Linked DNA regions of Homo sapiens. The protein of the gene in region 4 interacts with the protein of the main gene of each other region in a pairwise test. Each region holds a gene or a part of one and is shown on either strand. Other genes may lie near its edges. The genes, in order: SCAMP4, SLC38A7, SACM1L, SLC10A1, STX7, GDE1 and MFSD6.

What was found.
Region 1: the proteins of SLC10A1 (region 4) and SCAMP4 interact in binary tests that used the Homo sapiens proteins (3 or more experiments, as listed by UniProt).
Region 2: the proteins of SLC10A1 (region 4) and SLC38A7 interact in binary tests that used the Homo sapiens proteins (3 or more experiments, as listed by UniProt).
Region 3: the proteins of SLC10A1 (region 4) and SACM1L interact in binary tests that used the Homo sapiens proteins (3 or more experiments, as listed by UniProt).
Region 5: the proteins of SLC10A1 (region 4) and STX7 interact in binary tests that used the Homo sapiens proteins (3 or more experiments, as listed by UniProt).
Region 6: the proteins of SLC10A1 (region 4) and GDE1 interact in binary tests that used the Homo sapiens proteins (3 or more experiments, as listed by UniProt).
Region 7: the proteins of SLC10A1 (region 4) and MFSD6 interact in binary tests that used the Homo sapiens proteins (3 or more experiments, as listed by UniProt).

The regions. Positions count from the first base shown.
Region 1 is NC_000019.10:1,908,399-1,911,898, reverse strand, and holds part of SCAMP4 (secretory carrier-associated membrane protein 4), read right to left. Parts: intron 10-3,500; exon of another isoform or gene 1-9. UniProt on the Homo sapiens protein: Probably involved in membrane protein trafficking.
Region 2 is NC_000016.10:58,671,271-58,674,770, forward strand, and holds part of SLC38A7 (sodium-coupled neutral amino acid transporter 7), read right to left. Parts: intron 974-3,500; coding exon 826-973; intron 1-825. UniProt on the Homo sapiens protein: Symporter that selectively cotransports sodium ions and amino acids, such as L-glutamine and L-asparagine from the lysosome into the cytoplasm and may participates in mTORC1 activation. The transport activity requires an acidic lysosomal lumen.
Region 3 is NC_000003.12:45,734,396-45,737,895, forward strand, and holds part of SACM1L (phosphatidylinositol-3-phosphatase SAC1), read left to right. Parts: intron 1-839; coding exon 840-978; intron 979-3,187; coding exon 3,188-3,257; intron 3,258-3,376; coding exon 3,377-3,449; intron 3,450-3,500.
Region 4 is NC_000014.9:69,783,742-69,787,241, reverse strand, and holds part of SLC10A1 (hepatic sodium/bile acid cotransporter), read left to right. Parts: intron 1-934; coding exon 935-1,145; intron 1,146-3,500. UniProt on the Homo sapiens protein: As a major transporter of conjugated bile salts from plasma into the hepatocyte, it plays a key role in the enterohepatic circulation of bile salts necessary for the solubilization and absorption of dietary fat and fat-soluble vitamins.
Region 5 is NC_000006.12:132,447,117-132,450,616, reverse strand, and holds part of STX7 (syntaxin-7), read left to right. Parts: 3' UTR 1-3,500. UniProt on the Homo sapiens protein: May be involved in protein trafficking from the plasma membrane to the early endosome (EE) as well as in homotypic fusion of endocytic organelles. Mediates the endocytic trafficking from early endosomes to late endosomes and lysosomes.
Region 6 is NC_000016.10:19,515,599-19,519,098, forward strand, and holds part of GDE1 (glycerophosphodiester phosphodiesterase 1), read right to left. Parts: intron 1,592-3,500; coding exon 1,416-1,591; intron 1-1,415. UniProt on the Homo sapiens protein: Hydrolyzes the phosphodiester bond of glycerophosphodiesters such as glycerophosphoinositol (GroPIns) and glycerophosphoethanolamine (GroPEth), to yield a glycerol phosphate and an alcohol.
Region 7 is NC_000002.12:190,495,355-190,498,854, reverse strand, and holds part of MFSD6 (major facilitator superfamily domain-containing protein 6), read right to left. Parts: intron 1,417-3,500; coding exon 1,136-1,416; intron 1-1,135.

The DNA.
Region 1 (3,500 bases), on a different chromosome or scaffold from region 4:
TGCTAACCCCTGGTGTGCACAGAGTTTAAACAGCCATTGGTTTTTAAAAACGAAGATATAATTCACCTACCAGAAGACAGATCATTTTCTTTTTTTTTTATTTTATTTTTTTACTTCTGAGACGGAGTCTCGCTGTCGCCCAGGCTGGAGTACAGTGGCATGATCTCAGCTCACTGCAACCTCCGCCTCCCGGGTTCAAGCTATTCTCATGCCTCAGCCTCCAGAGTAACTGGGATTACAGGCATGCGCCACCACGCCCGACTAATTTTTGTGTATTTTTAGTAGAGATGGGATTTCACCACGTCGTTCAGGCTGGTCTCGAACTCCTAACCTCACGTGATCCACCCGCTTCAACCTGGTGGTGGGATTACAGGTGTGAGTCACTGCGCCCAGCCAAGACAGGTCATTTTCAAAAGCACAATTCATGGCTAGGTACCAGCGGCTCACGCCTGTAATCCCAGCACTATGGGAGGCCGAGGTGGGGGGATCACTTGAGCCCAGGAGTTTAAGACCAGCCTAGGCAACATAACAACACCCCATTTCTACTAAATATCAAAAAATTAGCTGGGCGTGGTGGCACACACCGGTGGTTTCAGCTACTCGAGAAGCTGAAACAGGAGGAGCACTTGAGGCCGGAAATTCAAGGCTGCAGTGAGCTACAATCGTGCCACTGTACCCCAGCCTGGCTGACAGAGCAAGATGCCATCTCAAAAAAAAAATGAAAACCCGGGCACGGTGGCTCACGCCTGTAATCCTAGCACTTTGGGAGGCCGAGGCAGGCGGATCACAAGGTCAGGAGATCAAGACCATCCTGGCTAACACGGTGAAACCCCGTCTCTACTAAAAATACAAAGAATTGGCCAGGCCTGGTGGCACGCACCTGTAGTCCCAGCTACTAGGGAGGCTGAGGCTTGCAGGAGAACCCAGAAGGTTGAACCTGGGAGGCGCAGGTTACATTGAGCCGAGATCGCGCCACTGCACTCCAGCCTGGTAACAGCGCGAGACTGTCAAAAAACAACAAAAAAGCCAGGCGTGGTGGCTTAAGCCTGTAATCCCAGCACTTTGGGAGGCTGAGGCGGGCAGATCATGAGGCCACGAGATCGAGACCAGCCTGACCAACATGGTGAAACCCCATCTCTACTAAAAATACAAAAATTAGCTGGGCATGGTGCCACGCACCTGTAATCCCAGCTACTCAGGAAGCTGAGGCAAGAGAATTGCTTGAACCTGGGAGGCAGAGGTTGCAGTGAGCCGAGATCGTGCCACTGCACTCCAGCCTGGTGACAGAGCGAGACTCTGTCTCAAAAAAAAAAAAAAAAAAAAGACACCTCAAAAACCAAAAACTATCAAGTGTCCTATTCAGTGGCTCTTAGGACACTTGGAGTTGTGCAACCATCACCACTATAAAATTCCAGAACATTCCATCACCCCTAAGAGAAAACTTGTCTCACCACCCTACAACACACACAGCAACCCAGGCAACCACTGATGTGATCTCTGCATCTCCAGAAGCCAGAGCCTGGAAGCAGAAGCGGGGACAGGCGGCGCCTGGCTTCCAGACAGAAGGGCCATGTGGCCAGGAACTGAGCAGGACCCTTGGTCCCCCGGCCGCAAGCTGCTGAATTCCGCCAACGCCTGCGTGAGTTGCAAGCAGATGCCACCCCCGTTGAGCCTCCAGATGACAACACAGCCCTGGCTGACACCTGGGTTCCAGCCCGGTGAGACCCCGCAGAGAGGAGCCAGCCATGTCACATTCAGGCCCCGACCCACAGAACCGGGAGCTGGCGGGTGTTGTATTAAGCCCACAGATGCACGGAGTCTGCTATGCAGTGACAGAAAGCAAGCATGCCAAGTGTGGGGGACACGGGGCCCCCTCCCAGAACAGCACACAGCCTGGCACTGACACGGAACACCCACCTCCAGTGGTTTCTGTAAACACTCGCCCCCTAGTCGGCCAAGGGCTAGGAAAAGAGAGACCTCAGAAGACAAGCCACGAAACGTAAGCCCCGGAGCGCAGCCCCTCCCCTGGTGGGCCCGACTTCCCATCCCTTGACCACATTCCTGCAGCTGTGGTGGGCCCTGGCTGTCGGGTGGAGCAGGCAGCCACTGGGGTGTCCCTGCTTACTCAGTCACAGAGGAGGCCCTGGCTGGAGTGGGGCTGCGGGAAGAGCTGGGATCACTCCCGGGGCTCCTGCTAACATCCCTGACTGCCGGGCAGTGTGCCAAGGCGGCTCTCGGGTGAGAACCTCCCGGCCTGACATCACCAGCACTGTTACCATCCCTGCCGCTGGCACAGGTGAGGACATCCCTGCTGCTGGCACAGGTGAAGACATCCCAGCCACTGGCACAGGTGAGGACGGGAGGCAGTAAAGCCGTTACCATCCCTGCTGCTGGCACAGGTGAGGACAGGAGATAGTAGAGCCATTACCATCCCTGCTGCTGGCACAGGTGGACATGAGGCAGTAGGGCCACTCCACTGGAGAGGAAGGGCTGGTGGGGCCCCCAGCTCTCGGGATCCGCCCATTAGAAGGGAGCCTGCCCTAGGCGGGCAGACAGCACAGCAGAGAGGCAGGCGTGGGGACAGCCAGCCTGCAGGGACTGCTCACAGGGCCCTGGGGGACAGCGCCTCTGGCTCCCACATCTCTGGCATCCACCCCACCTGAACACCCCCAAACCACAGTCTCAGCTGGCCAGCCTTCCCCCACCTGCATCTGCCCCCACAGACTCGCACCGCAGGCCTGAGGTTGGATTACAGGCGTAAGCCACCATGCCCAGCCCACATTTTTTTTTTTTTCAGACAGAGTCTCACTCTGTTGCCCAGGCTGGAGTGCAGTGGCATGATCTCAGCTCACTGCAACCTCCACTTCCCAGGTTCAAGCGATTCTCCTGCCTCAGCCCCCCTAGTAGCTGGGAATACAGGCACATGCCACCACGCCCGGCTAATTTTTGTATTTTCAGTAGAGACGGGGTTCCACCATGTTGGCCAGGCTGGTCTTGGAACTCCTGACCTCAGGTGATCCACCTGCCTCAGCCTCCCAAAGTGCTGGGATTACAGGTGTGAGCCACCGTGCCCAGCCCACATTGCTTAAAAGTATAAATTAGTTGGGCACGGTGGTGTGCACATGTAGTCCCAGCTACTCAGGAGACCAAGGCGAGAGGATCACTTAAGCACAGGAGTTTGAGACCAACGTGGGCAAGATAGAGAGACCCTGTTCCTTTTTTCAAATAAATAAATAATAATAAAATCCTAAAAACCTTACTACCTGTGTGCTCACAGTTATTTCTAGCAGACAGTACTGCCTCAGATGGTGCTGGGGCTAAGCCGCAGATGATCTTAAAATGACTCCAGCCGGGTGATCCTGAACTGCCAGCCTGGACTACACATCCCCGCTGGTATGGACGGCTCCTCCCGCAGACAGGGATGTGTCTCTGGATCATTTCGCAGCCGCGCAGCTGTGGGTGCTACTCCTCGACATGCACTGCCTGGTCCACGCCTCAGC
Region 2 (3,500 bases), on a different chromosome or scaffold from region 4:
GTGCCCCTGCTGCTAGCAGCTCCCCACCTCTAGCTCACAGGAGCCAGACCCCTAACTGGGTAGACTGCGGGGAAAGCCCCATTCCTGACCCTCAGTTTCCTCTTCTGTAAAATGGGCCACCAGCACTCTGTTTACCACAGGGACTAGAGACGGTGAATGTCGAGAGCTTAGCACTTTGCTTTACATCACATGGAAACTGATATTGTTTTTTCCTTAAAAGGAACTGTCTGGGGCATCCAAAGGGGAGGGTGTCCATGTGAAAGCTCAGGAAAGGATCTGGATAGAGATTCTTTTGTTTTTTGTTTTTTTGAGACAGGGTCTGGCTCTCTCACCCAGGCTGGAGTGCAGTGGTGCAATCTTGGCTCACTGCAGCCTTGAACTCCTGGGCTCCAGCCATCCTTCTGCCTCAGCCTCCCAAGTGGCTGAGTAGCTGGGACCACAGGTGCATCCCACCACACCTGGCTATTTATTTTATTTTGTGTAGAGATGGGGTCTCACTAGGTTGCCCAGGTGGTCTTGAACTCCCAGGCTCAAGCGATCCTTCTGCCTCAGCCTCCCAAAGTGCTGGGTTTAGAGACGTGAGCCACCGTGCCATGCCATGGATAGAGATTCTTACAGGACTCACGGAATGTTCTGGTGACCCCAGGACAAAGGGCGCTTCTGACACCTGGCCTGGGATATGTAGGGACCCATCCTAGGCACCGACTCTTTTCTACAGGCTTCAGTTTCTCCTTCTACAGGATGGGGTCCACACAAGGCCAAAGGACCATGTTGGAAGCGCTCACAGGGGCTAGGAGGGGCCCTGGGGAGTGGAAGGGGGCTCACCGCCCACAGAAGTGCAGGATAGGGTAGGAGGTGAGCACGCTCAGGATGATGAAGGCTCGGGCAACGGCCACGGCCATGTCCTCCGAGGGATAGGACAGGAGCACGTCAGGATCCACAGCAGCTCCAAAGGTCAGGAAGCCACAGATGCCTGTGGGCAGGGACAACTGGGTCAGGGCAACCCTGGGAGGGTAGTGGGGTGGACTGTCCACTCCTCCTAGGAGCAACATCAGCCTGGAGGCTGCAGCAGCAGCTCTGGACACTTAGACGGAGGCTCAGAGTGGGAGATGGGGCTCCGATCAGATGCCTCCCTCCCTGACTTCTCAGATCCCCCATCGCTGGAAGCCCTCCAGCCCCCAGCTTTCTGAGCCTGAACTTGCCCAGCACATTCCCACCTCAGTGCCTTGGCACTGACTGTTCTGTCTGGCAGACCTTCAGATGCCATCTCCTTATCATTTGGGTCTCAGTTTAGATGTCCTTCCTCAGAGAATGCTTCCTGCCAGTCCATCTACAATGACCCCCACCCCAGGCACTCTCTCACATCACGCTGTCTTATTTTTCTTTTCTTTTTTGAGACAGAGTCTTGCCCTGTTACCCAGACTAGAGCGCAGTAGTGTGATCATGGCTCACTGCAGCCTTGACCTCCTCGGCTCAAGCGATTCTCCCACCTGAGCCTCCCAGGTAGCTAGGACTACAGGCAGATGCCACCACACCCAGCTAATTTTCTTGTAGAGATGGGGTCTTGCTACGTTTCCCAGTCTGGTCTTGAACTCCTGGGCTCAAGTAATCCTCCTACCTCACCCTCCCAGAGTGTGAGCCACTACACCCAGCCTTCTTCTTTTTTATTTTTTTGAGATGGAGTTTCACTCTTGTTGCCCAGGCTGGCACGCGGTGGCACGATCTCGGCTCAGTGCAGCCTCCACTTCCCAGGTTCAAGTGATTCTCCTGCCTCAGCCTCCTGAGTAGCTGGGATTACACCATGCCCGGCTAATTTTTTTTTTTTTTTTTTTTTTTTTTTTTGAGATGGAGTCGCGCTCTGTCATGCCCAGGCTGGAGTACAATGGCATGATCTTGGTCTCCTGGGTTCTCATGCCTCAGCCTCCTAAGCAGCTGGGATTACAGTCACCTGCCGCCACACCTGGCTAATTTTTTTTTTTTTTTGAGATGGAGTTTTGCTCTTTCACCCAGGCTGGAATGCAGTGGTGCGATTTCAGCTTACTGCCACCTCTGCCTTCTGGTTTTAAGTGATTCTCCTGCCACAGACTCCCGAGTAGCTGGGATTACAGGCGCCCGCCACCAAGCCTGACTAATTTTTGTATTTTTAGTAGAAATGAGGTTTCACTATGTTGGCCAGGCTGGTCTCGAACTCCTGACCTCGTCATCCGCCTGCCTCGGGAAGTGCTGGGATTACAGGCGTGAGCCACCACGCCCAGCCCTAATTTTTTTATTTTTAGTAAGATGGGGTTTCGCCATGTTGGTTGGGCTGGTCTCGAACTCCTGACCTCATGTGATCTGCCTGCCTGGGCCTCCCAAAGTGCTGGGATCACAGGCGTGAGCCCCAGTGCCTGGCCGTTTTTTTTTTTTTTTTTAAAGACAGGATCTTGCTCTGTCACTCAGGCTGGAGTGAAGTGGTACAATCATAGTTCCACTGTAGTCTTGAATTCTTAGACTCAAGTTCCTCCTGACTTGGCCTCCCAAGTCACTGGGACTACAGGCACATGCCACCATGCCTGGCTAATTTTTTTTTTTTGAAGACAGAGTCTCACTTTCTCCCCCAGGCTGGAGTGCAGCGGCGCGATCTTGGCTCACTGCAACCTCGGCCTCCCAGGTTCAAGTGATTCTCATGCCTTAGCCTCCCGAGTAGCTGGGATTACAGGCACCACCACCACGCCCGGCTAATTTTTGTAATTTTGATAGAGACAGGGTTTTGCCATGTTGGCCAGGCTGGTCTCGAACTCCTGGCCTCAAGTGATTCACCCACCTTGGCCTCTCAAAGTCCTGGGATTACAGGCGTGAGCCACCATGCCTGGCGGACGCCCAGCTAATTCTTTAATTTTTGTAGAGATGAGTCTCACTATGTTGCCGAGGCTGGTCTTGAACTCCTGGCCTCAAGCGGTTCTCCCATCTCAGCTTTTCAAAGTGTTGGGATTACAGGCATGATCCACTGGGCCTGTCCCCTAACACTCATTTCTCTCTTTTTTAGAGACAGGGTCTCACTCTGTTGCCCAGTTTGGAGTGTAATGGCATGATCATGGGTCTCTACAGCCTTGATCTCATAGGCTCAAGCGATCCTCCCACCTCAGCCTCCCAAGTAGCTGGGTCCACAGGTGCATGTTACCATAACCTGGCTAATTTTTAAATTTTTTGTAGAGATGGAGTTTCACCATGTTGCCCAGCCTGTCTTGAACTCCTGGGCTCCAGAGAACCTCCCACCTTGGCCTCCCATAGCTGAGATTATAGGTGTGAGCCACTGTGACTGGCCTCATCGCTTTCTAATTTTTTTTTAACTGTACTATCACACTGGTCTTTAAGTAAACAATAATACAAATAAAAATAATAACAATAATAATAGTAATTAATTTTTACAGGCTTATTTTCTGTCTCCCCAGCCAGGACATGAGCCCCAGGAGAATAGGGATTTGGCTGTTTGCCTCTCTTGTTCCTGGCTGTGTATTCAG
Region 3 (3,500 bases), on a different chromosome or scaffold from region 4:
GAGGGAGATTCCATCTCAAAAAAAAAAGAAAAAGAAAAAAAATATTTTTAAGTATTTAAAAAAAATTTTTTTTAATTTAGATACAGGATATCGCTCTGTCACCCAGGCTGGAGTGCAGTGGTGTGATCATAGTTCACTGCAACCTTTAACCCTTGAGCTCAAGTGATCCTCCCACTTTAGCCTTCTGACTACAGGTAGGCACCACCATGCCTGGCTACGTTTTTGTTCTTTTAGAGGCAGGGACTCGTTATGTTGTCCAGGCTGGTCTCGAACTTCTGAGCTCAAGTAATCCTTCCACCTCAGCCTCCCAAGTAGCTGGGATTACAGGCACGCACCACCACGCCCAGCTAAAAGTATTTTTAATGCAAAATATTCAATCCTTGCCTCAGAGATTCTGATTCAGTTGATCTCAAGGCCAGGAATCTTTTTTCACAAGCAACCCAGAGGATTCTAAAGATAGTATATGAATCATAAAGCCCTGACATCTAGGGATATAGTTGGAATAATTATGTTAGAGGAAACCCTCATCTGGCTTTGGGAAACATGATTGATTTGCACAGCAACCTTTTTAATACTCTTAACTTTACTTTTTCACATCTTTGGGGTGAGATGATCTCTAATCTTCAGCCATTTTTTGGATGGAGGGCTGTCTTGCCTCAGCCATTTAGACTTCTTTTTGGTCTAGGATAATCACATATGCCTGACCACACATTCCTGTCTGACCTTTTAATTTACAGTTTTTAATAATGTCACTGAAATGAGACCCATGTTATAAGAGTTAAGTCCTTAGTAAATCTGACCTACTTTGGTATGAGAGTGTTTATACAAATATGTTTTAGTTATTTTCTAGTGGACTCTGCTGGCCAGGTGGTGGCAAACCAGGAAGGCGTGTTCCGAAGCAATTGCATGGATTGTCTAGATAGAACCAATGTGATCCAGAGTTTGTTAGCTCGTCGTTCACTTCAGGCCCAACTTCAGGTGCGAATGCTTTTTTTTTTTTTAATTGAAAAACAACACAGCAAAAAATTAAACATCTTTAAAACCCAGTAACAAAAAATATTCACATTGCCCACACCCTAACCCAGCTCTTTTTATTTTTGTGTCTTGCCCATGGATGTCACATTTTCCATAACTAGGGTCAGTCTGTGTATGCACAGTTTTCACTTTTGCCATTTTCCCTTAGCATTTATGTAATCACAGTTTCTGGTGGTTGTATTGTTGTGCCGTAATTTACTAAGCCATTCAGATTGCTACATTTTTGGTTTATAAATAACACCGTAGAGAATATATCTGTATATGTTATTATTAACTTGAATTATTTCCTTCATGTTAATTCCTAGAAGTGGAATTACTGGGTTAAAGAGAATAAATATATTATTTTCCAAGAGCGTCATACCAGTTTACACTGACACCAATAATGAATCAGTAAATCCATTTCATTGAACTCTTCCCAGCATTTGATATTTTAATTTTTTTTTTGTTTTTCCTTGAGAAAGTGTCTGGCTCTGTTGCCCAGGCTGGAGTGCAGTGGTGCAGTCTCGGCTTGCTGCAACCTCTGCCTCCTGGGCTCAAGCCATCCTACTAACTCAGCCTCCCACAAAGCTGGGGCTACAGGCATGTGCCACCACACCTGGCTAATTTTTGTATTTTTTTTTGTAGAGACAGGATTTCACCATGTTGCCCAGGTTGGTCTCAAACCCCTGGGCTCAAGCAGTCTACCTGCCTCAGCTCCCAAAGTGCTGGGATTACAGGCTTGAGCCACTGTGTCTAGCCTCTTTTTTTTCTATTTCGTTAATACAAAAGTAGCACCTCAAGATTGTTTCTATTTATCTCTCTCTTATTACTAGCAAGGAATATTGACTCCAAAGTAAAAAGTTTCTGACACAGCTTTGCTTTACCACTAGACTATGCTGTTGAGAAAAATGGTTTTTTTCTTCTGTGTATATTTGGAATGAAAAAGATGTAGAGCCCCAATTTTTAAATCACATTGGCATTTGTTGTGAGGGGCAGACAAAATGCATACCACATGGTTTCCTGTTCAGGTAATTAGTAAGCATTCAGCTTTATTTCTGACAATTGTATGATACCGAGAAAGAAATTATGGAGGTAAAATACCCCCTTCAGAATGAATTGTTCTTGAATCTTAAAGTCACACCTGCCAGAGGAGTGCTGTCCCTGTTGGAGTAGTCTGTAGTTTGTATTGTGCTATGTCCTCGTCTGTTGGAAGGTCTTCTAAGTGTAGTTTTTAATAGAAACAATATTAGGAATGGTTTGGTTCCATGGCTGATTAACCAAAACTTACTTGACTAGGCTCTGCAATCCATATTTTACAATTTTACATGCTATATATAGTATTATGAAACCTAACCAACCTGCAGAGAGTGGGGGCAGGAGCCTCTCCAGCAGCTTTGCCTACTAGTGTAGGGGCTGTCTACTTGTGCCTCTCCAAGTCTGCCAGTGAAGGCAGAGTTCTTACCCAGCTAAAGGTCACCAAGGTGGCTCCTGTGCTGTGTCTGAGGGTGGGAATGACTCCTTCTGAGGTGGAGATGAGGTGTCATCTGAGGTAAGCAATGAAGATGGTGGTTCTCAGAAGTGATGGTCTGAGACAAGGCAGGGACTTGTCATCTGTGGTTGGTGGTCTCCAAAGGGGAGTCTATAGAGGGGATTCAGGGGGCCCAGCAACCCTGGGATATTCTATGTCTGTGTGTGTGCACTTTTGGGGAGGTAGATTAGGTGGCACTCATCAGATTCTTAAAGGTCCCTGGGACAGAGGGTAAGGCTGGGGTGACTCAGGGGTGAAGAAGTTGAGGGATGATGCATGTGAGGGGGTCTCAAGGGGTAGAGGCAGTAGAAGACTGGGGGTAAGAGGGAGGGAGGAAGTAGCGGCTGGAATCCTATAGCAGCTTTCACTCTCTCTTCTGACCCTCTCCCTGAGTATAGTCCTGCTGCTATCCCTCAAGGGAGTGCGGGGGCTGCAAGGCAAAGGTGCCCTCAGGAGAGGCTTTGCAGTCTGCCCTGGGCAGGAGAGGGCTGCTGTGAGCTGGGGCCCCCTATAGACAACAGACATTTCTGGCCTGCATCCAGCAACCAGGCACCATGAGATAAAATTTGGGGACTGCTTTTTCTTCCTAAACCATGTCTGCTAAAATCTATTACACATAAATCTGGGTGTGGTTTTTTATTCCAGAGACTAGGAGTTTTGCATGTGGGACAAAAGCTTGAAGAACAAGATGAATTTGAGAAGATTTACAAAAATGGTAGGTCATTTCTTTAATATAGACAAAGTTGGTCAGATTTTGAAATAAATTAATATTCTGGATTTAGAACTTTGTTTGTCATCTTAATAATTATCAGCTGTTTTTACTTTTTTCTACAGCCTGGGCTGACAACGCAAATGCTTGTGCCAAGCAATATGCGGGAACTGGTGCCTTGAAGACTGACTTTACCAGGCAAGCCATGCTTTTAAAATAGCATTCCACATCAGTAGTTCACAGTCCTGG
Region 4 (3,500 bases):
GATACATATTAGAGCTGGAAGGACATATTATTCAGGCTCTGAGTGTCATAATTTATTTTAAATAATATCAAGAGGAACCAGAAAGTAAAGAACATGAGAACACCAGAGTTGGGGACTGGAATACTATCCAAGATGCAAAGCAAATCTGACCAGGTTATCTTGTCACTTACTCAACATGGGTATCTATTACTGCCTTCTCTACTACCCCACCATTATGGCCCTTCAATTATTCTGTTTCTTACTGCTTCACTATTTCTTTTACAGTCCTTTTAATCATGGTATCTGTTTATTGATTTTTCTAGTAGGGTTTTTGACTTCTGCCTGAGCATCACTCCCATGCCACCCATCCCCAAAGACCAAGTGTCCTGTCACTGTGTCTCACACTCAGACTCCCCACGAGGTAAAATGTGCTGATATAGCTAATTGTTATTGTCTCCGTTGGACAAAGTCACTACAAGAAGCCATTCCCTAGGCTCTAAACCAGACATTTAGTAACTGTGGGTCAGGTGCCATTCCATGGTCCAATGGGCTAATGACCAGAGTAATGGAATCACACAGTTGGCTTTCTACAAAATGGGCTTGGCATGGGGGAGGTGCTCAATGCGAAAAGGGTTCCATTACAGAGAAGGAGATCAGAATGGCTCCTTCCACAATGAAGCACACAGGGATTGAAGCAGTTGAACCACCCTAAGTTCAAATGCTGCCTTGGCCACTTACTACCTTGTGCGACTTTGAGCAGGACACAACTCTTCTAGTCCCCAGCTTCCTTGTCAGCGAAAAGAAGATAGTATGCTTACTGCCTAATGTTATGGGGAAAAGGAACTGAAGCCACATATGTCAAGCACTTAGCACAGTGGCACTTAGCAGGCACTCAACAAAATAGTCTGTATTTATGGGCTCTCTCTCTCTCCCCTCTTCCCATGTCTCCCACCAGCATTGTGATGACCACCTGCTCCACCTTCTGTGCCCTTGGCATGATGCCTCTCCTCCTGTACATCTACTCCAGGGGGATCTATGATGGGGACCTGAAGGACAAGGTGCCCTATAAAGGCATCGTGATATCACTGGTCCTGGTTCTCATTCCTTGCACCATAGGGATCGTCCTCAAATCCAAACGGCCACAATACATGCGCTATGTCATCAAGGTAAGAACCTGGGAGGCTTGACAAATTAGGGCAAAAGAGTAAAAACACCATATACAACTATAAGATATAATCATTATATTAATAATAAACATACATATGCTCCTACTAGATGCTAAGTTTTATGCTATGCACTCTAAGGATTCACTGTCACCAGAGTTTGATATTTGCAGAAAGTGAAGTAACACATGAGGCTGGCGTGGTGGCTCACGCTTATAATCCCAACACTTTGGGAAGTTGAGGCGGGTGGATCACTTGAGGTCAGAAGTTTGAGACCAGCCTGACCAACATGACGAAACCCCGTCTCCATTAAAAATACAAAAAAAAAAAAAAAATTAGCCGGGCATGGTAGCGAGTGCCTGCAATCCCAGCTACTCAGGAGGCTGAGGCAGCAGAATCGCTTGAACCAGGGAGGGCAGGGGTTGCAGTGAGCCGAGATCGCGCCACTGCACTCCCGCCTGGGCCACAGAGCAAGACTCCATCTCTAAAACGAAAAAAAAAAAAAAAAGAAAAGAAAGAAAATGAAGTAACACACGAGAGAAACAAGATCCAATTCCAGTGTACACGCAAGTATTTGCAGAAGGCAAGGAGATGGGAACAGTGAGGGCTGGAGTGGTCAAAGAGCCTTATTAAAAAGGAAGGGCTTGAGGCATTTAGGTAAACCTGGGGAGAAGCCTGAATAGAGTTCAGCAGGCACTAAGGGCAAATTTGGCTGATGTGGCAAGAAGCTAGAGGAGACAGGTAGTGTACCCATTCCCAGCATTTCAAGAGAGGGATGGGGTGGGAAGTGGAGTGAATTAAGGCCACAAAGGTTTTGAGAAGCACTGTGGTCACAGACAGGGCATCATGCCACTGCTTTGTGTGCAGAACTCCTAGAGTGCAGCTATGGTCTCTCCACCAATATTTTCAACCTTGGAGTTTGGTCCCTGCCAGCCTCCCCCTTGGCTCACTATTCATCCCCCAGGGCCAGGAGGTCATCCTGGTCCTCAGGAAGGACTTGACCTCCTGACCTCCTGTACCATCTCTGCCCCTGGATCAATGCCTCTGGCCTGGTCTGCAAGGCGTGCTGCTGAGAACCCCAAAGTTTGGCAGCAGCTTTGGGCCTGGAACAAAGAAGTCAAGAGTCCAGTTTTCAGGGGGGTTTTATTTTCACACTACCATTGTCTCAAGAGTAGTTTTTGCCCTTGTCCTGTCCCAGTGCCATGGCCACAGCTCCCCTTCCCGCCTGCTGGAGGACATGGAGGAATCATCCCTCCTCCTTTCTGTGGCCAGTCACCCCACCTCAGCCCTGGATTGCAATCATTCTCTCTACCCTTGTACTCAAGAGACCTCCTTTTATTGATTATGCCCCTGGCCCAGCAGCCTCCCCTCTCTCTCATTTCTAAAATATCTCTGTATTGGTTCTTCACAATCAGCTTTGATACGAACTCACATATCTTCTATCTTCAAAAAACAAAACAAAAAGTGTCTCTCACTGGGATTTTTTGTGGAATCCACCTCCCATTCCACCTAATATCTCCCTTTGCTCTCCTTCCTAGCCAGGTTTTAGGAGTAGTCCCCCTCACTCCTCTCTCTCTCTGTCAATCGCTTCCTCTCAAACACCTTCCATTTCCCCCATGCCACCGCCAGAGCTCTCTCATGAGTGACCAGGCCCTCAGCAATTCGTTTCCATTATTTGAATCCCTCTCTTCTCTCCTTGGTCTCCCATCCACCCAGCATCTTGATGACCACCTGCTCCACTTTCTTTGCCAAATCCAATGGACATTTCTCAATCCTTCCTTGACCTTCTAGCAGCATTGGACATAATTGACCACTGCCTCCTCAAAAGCCTTCTCTGTCAGCTTTAGTGACTCTAAGCTCTGCTGCTTTCCTCCTACCTCTCATGACCTTCAGACTCCCTTATGAGTTCCTCTGGTCAAAGGCACTTCTCTGCATTCAGACCAAGCTTTCTGCCTTTCTCACCAGACCTCTCCCAGCACAGGATCTGGTCCCTCTCAGGTCTGCAATTACCATCTGCAAACCGAGACTTCCAGAACAGCATCATCAGATGTCAACTCTATCCTCACTCCAGAATCCATTTATTATCTACCAGGTCTTTCTATCTGAATATACCTCAGACATTTAAAACTCAATATATGTTAAAGTCATCTCCTCCCCATGTGGTTATCTCAGTCGGTGGCACTGTGTGTGTGCCCAGTTGCCCCAACCAGAAACTGGAAGTCATTCTCAATGTTCCCTTCTCCCTCACCACTCACACCCATCTAATCAATGACTGTCGATTCCACCTTCTGTTGCTGGAATCCATTCATTCCTCTCTATCCTTACCTCTCACTAGACAACTCAAATGGCCTTCTCATC
Region 5 (3,500 bases), on a different chromosome or scaffold from region 4:
CAATTTTAAAATTTCTGGCCCTTTACCGAAAATGTTGGTTGACCCCTGGAGTATAAACCTATACTATAGAAGAGAGTATCAATTTTTTTTTTTTTGAGAGGATCAATTTAAACAAAAGTTGGTCTCTTTAAATAAATAAAGTACACATAACTTGGTGAAACCGATTTGGAAAAAAACAGAAGACATAAAAAATTTAGGAATGAAAGTACAGATAAATAACCAAACATAGATTTTAAAATAATAAGACACTATAAACAACTTTATGCCAATATATCACAAAACAGAAAATGAATAATTTATATGAAAAATGCAAATTACCAAAATCAACTACGAAGTAGATGATTTCTGCTTCCTGCCATATGGTTGACTAGGTATACTCAAGGATCCTCCTGCTAAAATACAGTTAGTTCTTGGATAAAATACAACACACATAATATTAGTTCATTTCCTGGCTCATTAGAAAGAAAGATAATCACTAAAGGCTATTACCAATGAGAGTGGGCTAAAATTAAAGTAGTTGAGAAACAGGAAAACTGTGCCTCTGAGACTTAAGCCATGGACTCCAGGCAAAGTAAAGAAAGTGAACCTAAGATTCCTTCATAAAACCAGGAATGCTTTAAAGCATTAAAGTAGTCCTAAGTCAGTGGACTCTGGTGGTTACTCTAAGAAGTGGATGAAAATCCCCTCCGAAGGAAAGCCTCCCTAATTAATGCTTCTAGATTAATCAAACATGCAAGGAAACACACCATTTGCATTGAGAAACAGTAGATTTAGATATTCAAGGAATTCAGGTATTGCAATTAGCAGAAGTAGAATAACAGTTATATGTTTAAATAATGTATGAATTAAAACGAACATGAAATGAGAGATGTGTTAAAAGGCAGATATTAAAAAGAACCAAAGACAACTTAGGTATGAAATTTAATTATTGAAATATATAACATAATGAATGGTTTAAGAGCAGATTCACCACAACTAAAGGAATTGTTGACTATCAAGTTTTAACTGAGGAAACAACATATTGCAGCAAAAACAGGTAAAGGGATAGAAAATAAGAATTAGAGATTATGAGACCTGAAGGATAGAATGGGAAGGTTTAATATGTGCTGATTGGAGTCTAAGAAGTAAAAAATAGAAAAAAATTGAGGTAATTGCTGACAAATTTCCAGAGCTAAGAAAAGCCTGGGACCTGGTATGGTGGCTTATGCCTGTAATCACAGCATTTTGGGAGGCCAAAGCAGAAGGATCACTTGAAGCCAGGAGTTTGAGATCAACCTGGGAAATGAAGCAAGAGCCCCCACTCCATCTCTACAAAAAAAATTAAGAATTAGCCAGATGTGGTGACATGAACCAGTAGTCCCAGCTACTTGGGAGGCTCAAGTGGGAGGATCACTTGAGCCCAAGAGTTTAAGACCAGCCTGAGCAACATGGTGAAACTCCATCTGTACAAAAAATACAAAAATTAGCCAGGCATGGTGGCACACACCTGTGGTCCCAGCTACTCAAGAGGCTGAGGAGGGAGGATCACACGAGCCCAGGAGTTCAAGGCTGCAGTGAGCTATGATGGTGCCACTGTACCCTGTCTAAAAAAAAAAAAAGTGGATCCACATATACAAGAAGCAAAATGTATATCAACCAGGAAAAGGAAGCCAATGTATATTCATTATACTCAAACTTCAGAACAATAAAGGCAAAGATATCTTAAAAGCAGCCAGAATAACTTATCCACTTTTAAAGGAATAACGAATTGACAGACCTTTTTTTTTTTTTTTTTTTTTTGAGACAGAGTCTTGCTCTGTCACCCATGATGGAGTGCAGTGGTGTGATTTCTGCTCACTGCAACCTCCATTTCCCGGGTTCAATTGATTCTCCTGCCTCAGCCTCCCGAGTAGCTGGGAGTACAGGTGTGCGCCACCACAACCTGGCTAATTTTTTTGTATTTTTAGTAAAGACGTGATTTTGCCATGTTGGCCAGGCTGTTCTCGAACTCCTGACTTCAGGTGATCTACCTGCCTTGGCCTCCCAAAATGCTGGGATTAGAGGCATGAGCCACTGCACCTGGCCAACAGTAGACTTTTCAGTGCCAAAACTGGAAGGCAAAAGACAGTGGAATAACATCATTAAGGTACTGAGAGAATAACTCAATAGAATGAGTGCCCAGTGAAATTATCTTTCAAAATCAAGGGTATATTAAAAACACTTTTTTCTCAAAATGAGAATTTACAAACAAGGGACTTTCACTTAAGAATAAAGATGAATTTTAGAGTACAGCAAAATGACTAGGAGGAAAGTCTGAGATGCAAGAAGGTATGGTGAGCTAAAAAATCAGTAATCATGGGAAATGTAAATAAATACTGTCTATATTAAGAAGTATTTACTCTGTGGAGTAAAAAAGAGCGTAATTAAAATACTAGCAACATTTTACATAACTCAGGAAATGTATATGTGGGGAAAGTGTCCGGGAGCACTTAGAAGTTAGTGTGAGTGCTCCAAGATCCTGATACTCTTTAGGATGGAAGTTAAGATAATGAATGACTTTAGATGTTGTTAATCTAAGTACTTAACAGAAAATTTTCAGATAACCTTTAAAGAATAGCAATACAATATAACTTTCAAACCAGTAGAGAGGAAACATTCTGAAATAAGGGAAAAACACTTTAGAAATCCCAACTTTGATAGACCACAAAAATGCAAGAAGGAAGAAAAAGCATAGAAAAAGCAAAGAAATGGCATAGTATATAATAAATGGTTACAATAAATATAAATTGCCTATCTCACCAGATTAATAAAAAAAAAAGTCTACCTTGTTCAATATATACAGTTTACAAAAGACAGTACAAGGACAGAGAAAGACAAAAAGTAGAATTAGGGAAAATAAAACAAGCAAATATACCTGGTTAGGATAGCTGTATCAGTATTAGCCTTACAAATATTAAAGTGAAAAGCATTAATAAGGATAAGGAGACTCTCAAAAATAATAAAAATTTCAACTGAAGTAGGTATAACAGTTCTAAACAAAGTTATTAAAGTAAAAATGTAGAGGGCAAAACGGAAAAAAAAACTATTATGTTGTATTTGAAGTCACTCAATTTTTAGCTCGAGCAGCAAAAAAGTAAATAGAACAACATGGTAACCAAAGTTGATTCAATTAATACATAAAGGATCATGTTCCCCCAATTTAGAGCATGTGCATATTTCTTAAGCATGTATAAAAGATTTAGAAGGAAAATGATAAAGGAATGTTTTGGGGACCTCTGATAGGGAAAGATTTCTTAGAAAATCTGCAAAAGATATTAACCATAATCTACATAAAGTCAACTGTTTTATTTCAAGCCTCTCTGGAAATAGTTTTGTTGACTGATAAGAAACGCTCTATGTCAGTCAGCTAATCAATGTCTAGTGAGTCTAACTCTTTCCACTACACAGTAAGTTCCATCTTAGGGTGTTTTACTTAAAAGCCTGGTGTCAAATGTTACACGCACAAAAACTTATTAGTATCT
Region 6 (3,500 bases), on a different chromosome or scaffold from region 4:
TTGCATAAGCAGAGCAATACAGTATCTGATGACACTCAAGAACAATTCTAGCAACTTGGACTCATAATTCTCAAGTGTTACCAATATTCTTTCCTGCCTACAGTATGACTTCCTTCGGCAGACTAATGTTTTTCAGATCCTAGGAAAACAGGTCTGGATCATCTTTTAGGAAAAAGTATAACTTAACTGTTGGGTCAAATACTTAATTTTCCAAGAGAATCGATCATTGTCTGGATAATTGATATTACATGAATAACCAGTGAGCACACCCTTTTCAGTACTGCAAAGATGACAAGCAGAGAGGGATTTAAATAACCACATTCCAAAGTACAGTATATTACTCAGCATACCAATTCCAAGGGTGTTTACCGCTGTAAGTGGGGAAGAGGATGTAGGTTCTGTGATCATGTAAGTTTGAGAAAAGCTAAGTTACAAGTAAGAATCAGCTGATGTGGACTGTTTATCCACAACAGAAGTATTCAGAATACACTGTTTGATCTTACTTGAACCCTGTTTTTGCAGAACATCTTGTAAGATTAGCTCTAGTGTATATACTTTGGAAGCTACGTTTACACTCTACCAGGAAGGAATTAAATTAGACACTGAAAGAACTTTTGCTCTTACAGGGTTGAAAGACATTGGGGGCAGCTAAAAACAGCATGATTTGGACTAAAACTTGGGATAGATTCTAGTTTTGGCTTCTTTATGAACTAGTTATTTGCCCTTGAGTAAATAATTTAACTTTTCTGGGATTATATCTAAAGGCAAGATTGATCTAGATCTGTAGTATCCTATATGGTAGCCACACATGGCTATTTCAGTTTAAATTTACATTTAAATTAAAAATTCACTTCCTCGTGTCACTAGCCACATATCAAGTGCTCAATAGCCACAAGTACCTACCATATTACACAGTGCAGATATAAAATATTTCCATCATTGCAGAAAGTTCTACTGCAAAGTGCTATTCTAGATGATTTCTAGGATACTCTCTATTCCTACAATTCTGTGATTCCTCAGAAGTTTGTTATGAGGATCAGAAGAATTAAATGGGTTAAGTTAAAATGTGATATTATAATGTTACTTGAAGCTTTTAATGAATGTATAATTTGCTTCTTGGTACACCTGAAGGCAAGAAGATTGCCAAGCAATGACTTTCAGCCTCATGATTCTATGACTAGACAGTATTATCTTGACAATAATTCTGAAGCCAAATTTAGCCTCAGTGGGAAAGATTAAAAACATAATGCCAAATTTCTGTTGTTCCTGGCACTTGCTCATTACTTACAAGACCTACGTACAGTTCAAAACAAAACAAGACAACTCTCCTGGGGCAGATGTAATTAGAAGGCACCAGTGTCTGTCATTTCCAATAAAAGCTAAAAGATCTGTTTAAGTGACAATAAACTACTTACCTGAGTCTGTGGTTTGCTGCAGGATTCAGCTTCCTAATTTGTTCAAATGTCAAATCACACAATCGCCCAGTCCCATCAGTCGTCCTATCTACTGTGTTATCGTGCATTAAGACAGGAATCCCGTCAGAAGTAAACTCAATGTCCAACTCCACGCCTGTTGCTCCATTCTTAGCTGCCTTAACAAAAACATCAAGAATATTACTGTCAAATGGCCACAAACATTATTTTGCATCTAACCACCCAAAAGACCAGCAGGGCTCCTAAGACAGCTGTCCTTTTTGATTCATTTTCCTTCCACTTCCCCCACCAAACAGCAATCCTGATCTGTTTCTGTTTTCTGTGTATATAACCTTACTTCAATTCCTAACTGATGGATTCCTTAAAAACTTTAATTTTCCCACTCTTCTTACTTTCACAGTGGAAGACTAGGAGACTTCAGGAACTTATGTTTTCTCTGGATGTTTAACTATATGGGTCATCAATGGCTTATGAATACTTAGACAATTCCACTGTTTACCTACACTATTTGTTGGTACAGCAGTTCTGATGATCACCCTACGGTTGTTGATTAGTCAGATATTTCACTACTTTGGCATAAATGAGTCAGGTTTTTGTTGGTTTAATTCCACCCTCTACCACAAAGACACCACGCCTGCTTCTAGGACATATCACATTTTGTTTATGTAAGCAGCACTGGCTGTTGGCCCATAAGTTGTTAAGCTTGATGAGGTAGATTAGAATTTATCTAAAAAGAGAATTTGAACCTTAAATTACACGAGCCATGCTCCTCTGGAGACACACTATTTAATGTTTGCTTCCTTGGCTTCCTCATCACAATAAAGATGTGAAATGCTCATTACGATGAAGATTTCTTTCTTTTTTTTTTTTTTTGGAGACAGGATCTGGCTCTGTTGTTCAGGCTAGAGTGCAGTGGCATGATCTCGGCTCACTAAAACCTCCGCCTCCTGGGTTCAAGCCATCCTCCCACCTCAGTCTCCCAAGTAGCCGGGACTACTGGCACGTGCCACCATGCCCAGCTAATTTTTGTATTTTTTGTAGAGATGGGGTTTCACCATGTTGTCCAGGCTGGTCTCGAACTCCTGAGATCAAGCAATCCTCCTGCCTCAGTCTCCCAAAGTGCTGGGATTACAGGTGTGAGCCACTGTGCCCAGCTATGATCAAGATTTTTAATTTTTTAAAAAATATTTTAAGTCATGGTCTATTGCAAACATCTACAGTAAAAAAGATTTAACATATGTGAATATTTTGACCTAATTTCCTCAGTCTCTTTCTGTACTAAAACAAAAACAAAAACAAAAACTATTATTTATTGAGCCTTTTCTACTTGCCAGGCACTCTTCTAAGTGCTTTAAATGTATTAACTTATTTGATCCTCACAACCCTGAAGCAGGTACTATTAATATTCTCATTTAACAGATAAGAAAACTGAGACAAAGAAAGAGTAGGAAACTTGCCCAGGGCTGCACAAGCTAGGATGCAGTAGAAGTTGCACTCTTATCCGCTTCAGTTTTACTATCAACACTACAGATACAGCTGAAATTCTCCCTTTCATTCTCCTCCTTTCCTCTCCAGAGGTAATTACCATCTTAAAGTTGGTGTATATCATTCTCATGTCACTCCCTTACCGGTTTTTATTTAAGTACCCATAAACAACACAGAGCACTGTGCTAGTGAATAGTTAAGATTTCAATAAATGTTAGCCATTGTTATTTATTATGTCCTTTTAAACACATCTTTAAAGGTAATATAGTCAAATTTATCAATAACGTCCTTTATGGGTGGAGATTTTTCTGCTTTATTTAAATCTTTTCCTTTTCCCATGTGATACAGATGTACGACTATTTTGGAAAAACACATCACATTTTCCCTCTGCTCTCACAACAATCAACCCCGACGTCTGTGACCAAAAATGTGGGGGTTTTTCCCCACCAATAAGTAGTGGACACCAGCTGGGTATCCTCCAACTCAATTTTGACACTATCTACCTGGAGATAGTGTCAGATCATAGGTTGAGGGCTTGGTCCCCAAGACTGCACCCCACCCTCCTCCAGACACAAATAGCAA
Region 7 (3,500 bases), on a different chromosome or scaffold from region 4:
ATTAATCCTAACATACCAGAAAAAAAGCGCCACATCAAAAATTTTATGTGGCTTCTGTGAAAATGAGGATGAGTACACAAAGTAATGAAAATATTGCTACTCAAGCAGCAGATATTAAAATCATCCTTTCTCCTGTTTAGTCTTCTTGCTTTAAGGTATTAAAATCCTCCATATGCATCTCCCACCACAATATCTGGTTCTTGACTGAGCAGAGTAATGATGTGAGTTTATTATCTTGATAAATTAATAAATAGGATCATGCATGGACTAGCATGCATATGGTTATCAGTAAAGAACCAGATTTGGTTAAAATTTCACAAAGATTTTATGTTAGCTTACAAAGTGAGATTAATTAACAGTTCAACAAATTTTCTGAAAGGGGAATTACTCAAATGACCCTTATTTTTAAATCTTTCCCCTTTATTTTTATGTGTCCTCTGAAGCTACTCCAGACAAAGCTGACGTGACTTATCAAATAAAAGGGAGTGATTATCATGAGATGGGGGAACTGAGCCTATTTCTTTGGCTAAATTGTTTATAGAAGTTACACTCATTTTCCAAAGTCGGGATACACCTGTACAATTATCCACACTTTTATCAACATGCTTTAACTTTACTCAGGAAAGATCACTCCTCTGGGGACAAGAAAAATCACACTTTTAGACTTATTTTTCAGGTGAGGCCACCTGCATAACCATAATTCCACTGAGTTAGGTGTCCTATCAGACCCATACAGTGGCTCAGATTAATTAATTCAACAAATATTTATTGTGGTCCTATAATATAATGCCCCCACTAGAATTTTGGAATTACAGAGACAACCATCAATACTGAAATTTAAAACAAATATACAATGAAAGAATGGATTAATTTATTTTATTTCTTTCAAGAAGTGAAAGAATCATAACCTCTGAAGTTTTCCTGAACTCCATAAGGCAGAATATTCTCTCTATGGGACCTTGTATACACCCTCTTTAACTCAGTGCTCACAGAGTACTGAAATTGTTTGCATGTCTATTTCCCCCACCAGACTTTCAATAAATCTTGTTGAATGAAAAGTGAGTAATTAAAACTGAGCCCAGTTAAGGTATCTTGAGTGACAGGTAATATTGCTAGCCCAGCAAAGGAACTGTACCTGTAAAGGCTGTATCTCAGAAGCACGGTTGTCTCTTGTGAGTTGCATCATCTCTTTAATTTGGTAGAGTGCATAGACAAAGGTCACCCAGGGAGAAGAGCTGACTCCCCAGGCTGGTTTGTTCACATCTTCCTGTTCTTCCTGGTGCTTAGTTTTCTTGGGTGGAAGTCTGGGCTCAATGCGTGGCATGACATCTTCTGTCTGTTGCTGTACCAAGTCGATGGTTGCTATAGGAACGGGACTGGAGGGAACAGGAATTCTTTCTGCCAACATTGTCTTGTCTGGAGAGAAAAGAATGTTTAAACTATTTTTTCAGCATTTTCTACATATTTGAACAAAGGTAAAAATAAATAAATAAACCAAGAATCCCATATACCCATTCCAGAGTGCTTGATAATATTAATAAATTGCTGGTTACCAATGACTTCATTACTTGGTGTAAGTACTGAATCAATGAACATGATGTTTATCTTTGGGTCTCTTTATAGGCCTTAATAGACATTAGCATATATATTTAAGAAATATATTTTTCATTTAACTTAGAACATCAGTGGGGCATAGGTTATAATGAGTGTTGCCTTAGGCCCATTTACAGGATTATGATTAAAAAGACGTCAAAACAGGAAAAGCCACGTGATAGTTATTTTTTAAAAAATGTTTTATTCCCACAGGTTTTTGGGGAACAGGTGGTATTTGGTTACGTAAGTTCTCTAATGGTGATTTGTGAGATTTTGGTGCAACCATCACCCAAGCAGTATACAATGAACCCAATTTGTAGTCTTGTATCCCTCACCCCTTTCCCACCCTTTCCCCTGAGTCCCCAAAGTCCATCATATCATTCTTATGCCTTTGCATCCTCATAGCCTAGCTCCCACTTATGAGTGAGAATATACGATGTTTGGTTTTCCATTCTTGAGTTGCTTCACTTAGAATATGGTCTCCAGTTCCATCCAGGTTGCTGTGAATGCCATTAATTCATTCCTTTTTATGGCTGAGTAGTATTCCATTGTGTATGTATGTATATGTGTGTGTGTGTATATACACACACACATACACACACATATACACATATACATATATATACACACATATACATACATACACACACTACAGTTTCTTTATCCACTCATTGATTGATGGGCATTTGGGCTGGTTCCACATTTTTGCAATTGTGATGCTATAAACATGCATGTACAAGTATCTTTTTCATATAATGACTTCTTTTCCTCTGGGTAGATACCCAGTAGTGGGATTGCTGGATCAAATGGTAGTTCTACTTTTAGTTCTTAAGAAATCTCCACACTGTTTTCCATAGTGTTTGTACAGCTTACATTCCTACCAGCAGTGTAGAAGTGTTTCCTTTTCACTACATCCACACCAACATCAATTATTTTTTGATTATTTGATAATGGCCATTCTTGTGGGAGTAAGGTGGTATCACATTGTGGTTTTGATTTGCATTTCCCTGATCACTAGTGATGTTGACCATTGTTTCATGTTTGTTGGCCATTTGTGTATCTTTGCTTGAGAATTGTTTATGCATGTCCTTAGTCCACTCTTTGGTGTTTTTTTTTTTCTTGCTAATTTGTTTGAGTTCGTCATAGATTCTGGATATTAGTCCTTTGTCGGATATATAGACTGAAGATTTTCTCCCACTCTGTGGGTTGTCTGTTTACTCTGCTGACTGTTCCTTTTGCTGTGCAAAAGCTCTTTAGTTTAATTAAGTCCCATCTATTTATCTTTGTTTTTGTTGCATTTGCTTTTGGGTTCTTGGTCACGAAATCTCTGCCTAAGCCAATGTCTAGAAGGGTTTTTCTGATGTTATCTTCTAGAATTTTAAGTTTCAGGTCTTAGATTTAAGTCCTTGATCCATCTTGAGTTGATTTTTTTATACGGTGAGAAATGAGGATCCAGTTTCATTCTCCTACATGTGGCTTGCCAATTATCCCAGCACCATTTGTTGAATAGAGTATCCTTTCCCCCTTTATGTTTCTGTTTGCTTTGTCAAATATCAGTTGGCTGTATTTGGCTTTATTTATGGGTTTTCTATTCTGTTTCATTGGTCCATGGGCCAGTTTTTATACCAGTACCATGCTGTTTTGGTGACTATGGCCTTATAGTATAGTTTGAAATCAGGTAGTGTGATGCCTCCAGATTTGTTCTTTTTGCTTAGTCTCACTTTGGCTATGCAGGCTCTTTTTTGGCTCCATATGAAATTTAGGATTGTTTTTTCTAGTTCTGTGAAGAATGATGGTGGTATTTGATGGGAATTGCATTGAATTTGTAGATTGCTTTTAGCAGTATGGTCATTTTCACAATATTGATTCTACCCATCCATGAGCATGGGATATGTTTCCATTTGTGT